2 separate regions of the Homo sapiens genome follow, and region 2 is linked to region 1. The links come from fine-mapping of genetic effects on gene expression. A gene starts in region 1. The other region holds a variant in brackets. All regions are shown on one strand. Distances are from middle to middle.

Evidence for each region.
Region 2: its variant is fine-mapped to the expression of CUX1 in whole blood (TOPMed, PIP above 0.99).

What each region holds. Positions count from the first base shown.
Region 1 is chr7:101,814,930-101,819,309 of GRCh38, reverse strand. CUX1 (cut like homeobox 1) reads right to left here and starts at 1,684. Exons shown (of 24, transcript NM_181552.4): 1 at 1,641-1,684. The coding sequence starts at 1,670. RefSeq lists silencers at 1,735-1,784, 1,835-1,904, 1,935-2,014, 2,085-2,404, 2,515-2,674 and 2 more and an enhancer at 2,500-3,428.
Region 2 is chr7:101,794,934-101,799,313 of GRCh38, reverse strand. No RefSeq gene overlaps it. Among named protein-coding and RNA genes, the nearest start is that of CUX1, 21 kb to the left of the region's middle. The variant G/A (reference allele first, on the strand shown) is at 2,470.

The DNA.
Region 1 (4,380 bases):
TAGAAAGTGTCCTCCTTTCAAATATGTATTTAAAAGACAAATTTATACAACAGTGCTTTTCTTATTTAAAAAGAAAAGAAAACCTGGTTTTTACAAGTCTGAGATAGGATAAAAAACTTGTCCAACTAGTCTTAGCAATACCAAAGCACTGAAACTTCCATACCACAAGCCTTTGGGACTAAAAAGGAAACGGAATAAAACACAATCTTCAGAAATTCTCTTCCTGAGCACACACTCCTGTGCCAAGGCAGCAGCTTCAAGACCCAGGAAGCCGAGGGACAAGAACCCAGTGAGCCAGGGTTGCAGAACTGCGGAACGGCCCAACCTCACCTGGACCCGCTGACGTCTCCAACCTGGATTTCTCTCTGCAAAGACCGATCAGCCTCTTTACCCCCAGGTGGCAACCCAATCTCAGTATAAAGAGGTCTGGAAAAATGAGAAAAATCTGGAACTAATGAATTCTCTCCCAAACTCGTTCTATTGACTCACTGACTATCGGTGGGAATTAACCAGACACCAACTCCAAAGGCCTCCTCACCGCCCAGAGAAAGAACCAGATTGGCCTGAGACTTGAACTTTGACATTCCGTATTCGACTAAAGTTTGCAAACCCATAGGAAATCATCTAAGGCCAAATCGTTAGCAACCACCAAAAGCAAAGGAGTAAAGAGGAATGAAGTTCAAATAAGGGACTTTGTTTTGGGGTTTGGTTTTGATTTCTTCTTAATATCCACATAAAGTGCAAGTAAACTGACATGGAAACTTTCGATGGAACCCTGGAGCCCTGATCCCCTGAAGAAGTAGCTAATATGGGGGACAGGAAGGTTTAGAGTTCTTAAAATCTAGTAACTCTAGAAACCAAATCCATTTTCCAGGCAATTTTGCCAGGATGCTTTAAAAAAGACACTTCATTGATATTAAGCTAGGATGTCACATTTAGGAAGACAAGAGAGAAAAATAATAATAATGTTTGTCCTTAAAACTCCACAACGGGTTTTACAGTAAGCACAGGAATTAAATTATGGTAAAAGGGAGCTATTTTTACTAAAACAGGGTAGACCAATTTATCAAAAATGCCATTCGGCTGTGTTCATTACATCCAGGAATCTAATTTACACAATAGACACTTTGGAGTAATCTATTTTAGTCAATAAATACTTAAACTCCTTTAAGTTTTAATCTTATCGGAAATACATATTTCGCATAGTCTTCTTCCTAGTTAAGCGAGAAATTTCAGGAAATTTCATAACGACTATGACTCGGCTTTATCGTTCTTAGTAGGCAAGAGCAGAAAACAAGCATATACAATTAAAGTTGTCAGATTCCATTTAAATATGTTTTAATCCAACCCGCTTCGTTTGATACAAGCCTGCATCTCGAGCTTTGCTCCCAAAGGTATTGCGGTAGGTCACTGTCACCAGTCCTCCAGGTTAGGAAAGTTCAGCCAAGTTTATCTTCACGCACACCTTAGCAGTTGGGAGTAGCTGCAGTTCCCCAGGGGCCCTGAGGAACCCTCCTATCCCCTCCCAGAGCACCAGGCCGCCCTAGAGCATTCTAAGCCGCGGGACCCGGGCACCCCCCGACATCCCCGGTTCCCTCCGCGCCTGCAACCTCGGGACTTCTGGCCCACACGCCGCTCACCTTCAACCTGGCTCCGGCTACGCACAACATCCACCTGGCAGAGTCCCGGGGCTGTCCCGGCGCCGCGGGCGCCGAGCTGGCACGTGCGGGGCGGACCCTAAGGGTGCGCCGCTCCTCCGGGCGGGGGGTGGCAGGCAGGCACTCGCCCCTTGGGCACGGCGGCGACTCGGGCGCGGGCCGGGGAGCCCCGGCACGGTCCCCCCGCGGCGCCGGGGACTCCGCGCGCGGACCACCGCCCGGCATGCCACGGTCCCAACGGGCCCCCGGGGCTCTGCTTTCGAGAACCCGGCCCGAGAAGGCATCTCCGAGCGCACCCGCCGCGCGCTCCATGGCGGGCCCTGCAGAGAGGGCAGAAGCCCCGAGGGGACGCAAGGAAGGGACCCGGCGCCGCAGGTCACCGGGGGCCGCCGGAGCCCCCAGGCGCGCGGCGATCGCGGCTCGGACCGGCGGCGGGGAGGCAGCGTACACTGCCCGGGCACCCGGGGGAACAGCTTGGGGCCTGCCTAGGGGAAAGTTGCAGCCTCCTCCTCCCGCGCCCGCACCCGGCGGTCCGGGACACCGGGACCCAGCGACACTGCGCGCGGGGCACCCCCGCCGCCCCTCGCCAAGTTTCCCCAAAGAGCCCCCGCGGGGGTCCGCCACGGAGGAACAGGTCCGCGTCACCGACACAGGCACACAAAAGAGCGCGGCGGCCGCGAGGTGCGCGGGTGGCCCCGGGGCGCTCCCCGGGACGTAAACAAACCCGGGGGTCCGCGCCGGGAGCCACACGCGGGGTGCCGGAGCGGCGGCGCGGCCCGGGCCGGTGACAGCCGGGGGCGGCGGCCGGGGCCGGCCGGGGGTAGCGAGCGCGGGCGCCTGCCCGGCCACCCGCCCGCCTGGCCGGAGCCGGGCCGCGCCGCCGCCGCCGCCGCCGGTGGCCGCTCTGACCCTCCCCCGAGCCGGCGGCACCACAGCGCCACCAGCCCCAGCTCCGCCGCGCCGGCGGCAGTGGCGGCGGCTCCTCCTGGAGAGGCAGGCGCTTCACCCCCCGCAGCAACTCCCCACAAACTTTCCCCGGGAATACGGCGGGCCGGGGGCGCGGGGCGAGCGGGCGGGCGGGCGCCACCGCCGGGCCGCGGCCCCCTCCCGGCGCCCGCCGCCGCCCGCCCCCCGCCGCCCGCTCCCCGCTCCCCGCTCGCGCGCGCACCCCGCGGGCCGCCGGGGCCGCCCCCTCCCCGGTCCCGCGGCGGCAACGGCGGCGGCGGCGCTGGCGGCGGCGGCGGCGCGGGGCCCGGGGGGGCGCCCGGGGTGGGGGCAGACACCGGGGGCAGTGGTGGCGGCGGCGGCTCCCGGCGCCATCTTGGGCTGATCGATGAATTGAACAAAGAGGATCAATTTCCGATCAAGCGAGTGATCAATGGGGGCCGGGGAGCGGGAGGGACTCGGCCCCGACTCGGCCCCGCGGTGCCCGGCACCCCCCTCCTCCCCGCCGCCGCGGGCCCCCCGGCGGCTGGGCCAGCCCGGGGCCCCCGGCGGAGGCCGCGACCGCCCGCAGCCCCCACCCCCGGGCGCGAGGCCGAGCGCGGAGGAGCCTGACCTGCAGCTGCTGTAAATCAAAGCGCTTCCAATATTGAAACATCGATCCCACATTGGCCGCCATCTTGAGACATATTGAGACGGAGTGAGCGGCTGATAGAGAGGGGGCTGGAGTTCAGGAGCCGCCAGGAGGCAGCAGGCGGGCGGCGCCAAAACCCGGCCTGGAGCCGGCCGCCGCCGCCGCCACCGAGGACGCGGACTCCTCCTCACGGCACCGCCGCAGCCATGGCGAGCCCGAGCCGGAGCCGGAGTCGCAGCCCCAGGGCGCGGCGGCCGCGGCCCGGCCTCGCGCGCGCGGCCCCGGCCCCTGCTCCCCCAACCCCCCCACCGCCGCCCTCCCCCTCCCCTCCGCGGGCCGACCGGCGACCCCCGCCCCTCGGGACAACCCCCCCCAAAGTCCGCGGTCGCGCCGGCCACAGACCCGGCCCCGAGGGGGCGCTGGAGGGCAGCGCCCGGGGTCCCCCGGCACCGCGCACCTGGGGAGGGCTGCGGGGGTGGGGGGGGTCTCCCGCTGGGATCGCGATCGCCCGCGGTGGCCGAGCGCAGCGCCTTCAAGACTCCGGTTGGGGGGAACGTCGGAGCGCCCCTGTAGTGGTTAGTGTACAGAGCGCGGAGACGCCGCTACCACCTGCCCGGGACCCCCCACACCCGACCCCTGCGTGGCCCAGGCCCCCCGCAGCAGCGTGCGTGGGAGGCGCCCCGACGGTGGACGGCAACACTCTGATCCCTCTGCGCCCAGCGAGGACCGGGACACCGACACGACCAGGAACAGCGTGGCATGTTTGGAGGAGTGGAGTTGAGGGGGAAACAGCCCTGACCCTCTCAGGGGGCCGCGCGCGTGGATGCCCCACACCCGGACAGCGGCGGTGCCAGCGTCGCACCCGAACGCACCCCAACGGCGGTAGCGCTGGGGGTCCCGGCAGCCCCCATTCGCCCAAGCCGTTCCAGTTTAGGCCACGACAGGAAAAGTCTGGGAGCCCAGTTCTGTGTCCCCCCGCGCCGCTTCAGCGGAACAGCCCAAGAAACTTCCTGTGGTTCAGACACCTTGGTTTGTTGCAACTTTGGGCGCAGAAAGTTGGAAAGTGTGGGTGCACTCACTGAAAACGGAAAGCGTGGTCCCAAGTTTACAGAAATGCTAAAATGCAAACCAAAAAATAAATTCTCT
Region 2 (4,380 bases), 20 kb after region 1:
ACGGAAGTGTGCCACCACACCTGGCTAATTAAAAAAAATTTTTTTTTATAGAGACAGGGTCTCTCTATGTTGCCCAGGCTGGTCTCAAACTCCTGGCCTCAAGCAATCCTCTTGCCTCAGCCTCCTGAGTAGCTGGGACTACAGGTGCATGCCCAGCTATTAAAAAAAAAACAAAAAAAAAAACCTTTTTTTTTTTTTTTGAGACAGAGTCTTGCTCTGTTGTCCAGCCTGGAGTGCAATGGCTCGATCTTGGCTCACTGCAACCTCTGTCTGCCGGGTTCAAGCAATCCTTCTGCCTCAGCCTCCCGAGTAGCTGGGACTACAGGCAAGCACCACCATGCCAATCTAGTTTTTTATATTTTTAGTACAGATGGGGTTTCACCATGCTGGCCAGGCTGGTCTCGAACTCCTGACCTCAAGTGATCTGCCTGCCTCGGCCTCCCAAAGTGCTGGGATTACAGGCGTGAGCCACCGTGGCCAACCAAAAACAATCTTTATAGTGATGGGGTCTTGCTATATTGCCCAAGCTGGCCTCAAACTCCTGGACTCAAGCAATCCTCCCAAAGTGTTGGGATTACAGGCGTAAGCCACCACAGCCAGCCTCCTAGTCCCTTCTTAACTTCTCTTAAATCGTCCCTGTTTGATTCTGTTTCCTGCTAGTCCCCTGACGGATACAGCAGGAATTAAAAAATATATATTTAACTTGTACATAAGTGAATGGAAATGAATAAAGAAAACATGTACACAACTTAGCAAAGTAGGATTCAGTTGGGAGCTGGTTCACTTTTCCCTGTTGTTAGTATGCATAATACCACACTTTTCTTTCTTTCTTTTTTTTTTTTTTTTTTGAGACAGCGTCTCGCTTCATCGCCCAGGCTGGAGTGCAGTGCAGTGGCGTGATCTCAGCTCACTGCTACCTCCACCTCCCGGGCTCAAGCAATTCTCTTGCCTCAGCCTCCTGAGTAGCTGGACTACAGGTGCGCCACCACGCCTGGCTGATTTTTTGCATTTTAGTTGAGACGTGATTTCATCATGTTGCCCAGGGTGGTCTTGAACTCCTGAGCTCAGGCGATCCACCCCCCTCGGCCTCTCAAAGTGCTAGGATTACAGGCATGAACCACCACACCCAGCCTAGTATGCATAATACCATAATTTTTTTAAAAAATTTTAAGTTCTGGGATACATGTGCAGAAAGTGCAGGTTTGCTATATAGGTATACATGTGCCATGGTGGTTTGCTGCACCTATCGACCTGTCATCTAGGTTTTAAGCCCCGCATGCATTAGACATCTGTCCTAATGTTCTCTCTCTCCTTGCCCCCCCACCCCCCAACAGGCCCCGGTGTGTGATGTTCCCCTCCCTGTGTCCATGTGTTCTCATTGTTCAACTCCCACTTATGAGGGAGAACATGCGGTGTTTGGTTTTCTGTTCCCGTGTTAGTTTGCTGAGAATGACGGCTTCCAGCTTCATCCATGTCCCTGCAAAGGACATTAACTCATTCTTTCTTTCTTTATTTTTTTTTTGAGATGGAGTTTCTCTCTTGTTGCCCAGGCTGGAGTGCAGTGGTGCCATCTCGGCTCACTGCAACCTCTGCCTCCGAGGTTCAAGTGATTCTCCTGCCTCAGCCTCCCAAGTAGCTGGGATTAATTACATGCATGCACCACTATGCCTGGCTAATTTTGTATTTTTAGTGGAGGCGAGGTTTTAGCATGTTGGTCAGGCTGGTGTCAAACTCCTGACCTCAGGTGATCCACCTGCCTCAGCCTCCCAGAGTGCTGGGATTACAGGGGTGAGCCACTGTGCCCGGCCAAACTCATTCTTTTTTATGGCTGCATAGTATTCCATGGTGGCGTAATACCATAATTCTAATGCATCCCTGATTTAGTTCTTTTTCTGCTAACCTCTAAACACAGGGAGGCAGGCACCAAGCCTGTCTTCCTCCTTTCTCATTCTTTTGACTTCAGGGCCAGGCTGTGTCAATAAAGATGTGTAGAATGAATGAAGGCATTCCTGGCTGATTGTATGCAATGACAACATCTCTTGCTGGGTCTGAGGCCGAAGTCCTTTGCTGTTCTGATCTGAGAGCATTTAGCTCTGAGGATCAAGTGAGAAGCCTCAAAGGCCATGTGCTCAAAGCGTAGAACAGTCTGACCCCTGTTTCCTGCAACAGACAGGGGCGAGTTAAAGGTGATACACTCTCTTGCAAACGGCTCACGGGGTGTCCTGGGAACTCTCATGGGGAGACGTGGAGTTTCTGGTGTGGGTGAAGATTGGGAAAGACATTTGCAAAGTGAGGACCAACAGAGGCCGAGGGCTGGAAAGAACAGGCTTTCATCATTGTCAGGGAACTGTGACAGAGAGAAGCAAGCCCAGGAAACGAGTTGGGTAACCTTCAGCTTCTCCATTACTTTTTTTTTTTTTCTTTGAGACAGAGTCTCGCTCTGTCACCCAGGCTGGAGTGCAGTGGCGC[G/A]ATCTCGGCTCACTGCGAGCTCCACCTCTCGGGTTCACGCCATTCTCCTGCCTCGGCCTCCTGAGCAGCTGGGACTACAAGTGTCTGCCACACACCTGGCTAATTTTTGTGTATTTTTGGTAGAGACGGGGTTTCACCGTGTTAGCCAGGATGGCTTTTTTTTTTTTTTTTTTTTTTGAGATGGAGTCTCGCTCTGTCACCAGGCTGGAGTGCAGTGGCACAATCTCAGCTCACTGCAACCTCCGCCTCCTGGGTTCAAGAGATTCTCCTGCCTCAGCCTCCCAAGTAGCTGGGATTACAGATGCCCGCCACCACGCCCGGCCAATTTTTCTATTTTTAGTAGAGAGGGGTTTCACCATGTTGGCCAGGGTGGTCTCGAACTCCTGATCTCATAATCCGCCTGCCTCGGCCTCCCAATCTGCATTACTTTTATTAATAACACTTAGCCTTGAAGCATGGATCTGGAGACAGGCATGTGAAGGCATCCAGTTTGCAGAAAGAACTTGGTCAAGTTTGACTTCAACAATTTCTCTTGGAGGAAAAAAAAAAAGCAGCAGCTCTGAACTCCAGTGGGATTTCCTGCACCTTAAATCTTGGGCATCGAGATCGCCTGGGTATGGTCATCACTAAAAGGACAATGGTAGGGTATTGGAAGTAAGTAGCATAGGCCAGATGGGGTGACTAATGCCTGTAATCCCAGCACTTTGGGAGGCCAAGGCTGGTGGATCACCTGAGGTCAGGAGTTCAAGAGCAACCTGGGCAACATGATGAAACCCCATCTCTACTAAAAATACAAAAATTAGCTGGGCATGGTGGCGGGCACCCGTAATCCCAGCTACGTAGGAGGTTGAGGTATTGCTTGAACTGGGAGGTAGAGGTTGCAGTGAGCCGAGATCACGCCATTGCACTCCAACCTGGGTGACAAGAGCAAAACTCTGTCTCAAAATAAATAAACATATAAATAATAAAATGTCTGCTATAGTGTTTGGCACAGAATAGATGCTCAAATTTTGGGGAGCTAGGACTTATCATTCTGGTTCCACTTTGGTATCATTAGTCTGCTCATGGTGTGTTTAGGCCACCTCAAGTCCTCTGGCCAGACTCTTAAAGGAGGCCAGCCTCCATGGGCTCACACCTTGGTGAAGGCGGCATCCCCCACCAGGCATAGGTAAGTATGGACTTCTCCTCCAGGCTAGGCTGTGCTGTGCTAGGCCAGGCAACCCTGACATGCGTGGTATTAGGTGGGGCCGGAAAAAAGGGGCTTAAGAAGGTGATGCAGGGCTGGGTGCAATGTAATCCCAGCACTTTGGGAGGCCGAGGCAGAAGGATCACAGGGTCAAGAGATCGAGACCATCCTGGCCAACATGGTGAAACCCCATGTCTACTAAAAATACAAAAATTAGCTGGGTGTGGTGGCATGTGCCTGTAGTCCCAGCTACTCGGGAGGCTGAGGCAGGAGAATTGCTTGAACTTGGGAGGTGGAGGTTGCAGTGAGCTGAGATCACGCCATTGCATTCCAGCCTGGGTGACAGAGTGAGACTCCGTCTCAAAAAAAAACAAAAAATGATGATACAGAAATCAGGTCCGTAAAGCCCAGTTTCTGCCTTGGGCAGCTTCTAGGTCATGGATGGTGGAGAGATGATAGAAGTGGACACCACGTGACTGGACCCTCACTGTGCATCAGAAAGAGGGAAAGATTGGGAACGACAGCCCAGACCCTTCTGCTTTTCTTTTTTTCTTTTTTTAGATGGAGTCTTGCTCTGTCGCCCAGGCTGGAGTGCAGTGGCGCAATCTCGGCTCACTGCAAGCTCCACCTCCCGGGTTCACACCATTCTCCTGCCTCAGTCTCCTGAGTAGCTGGGACTACAGGCACCCGCCACCACGCCCGGCTAATTTTTTGTATTTTTAGTA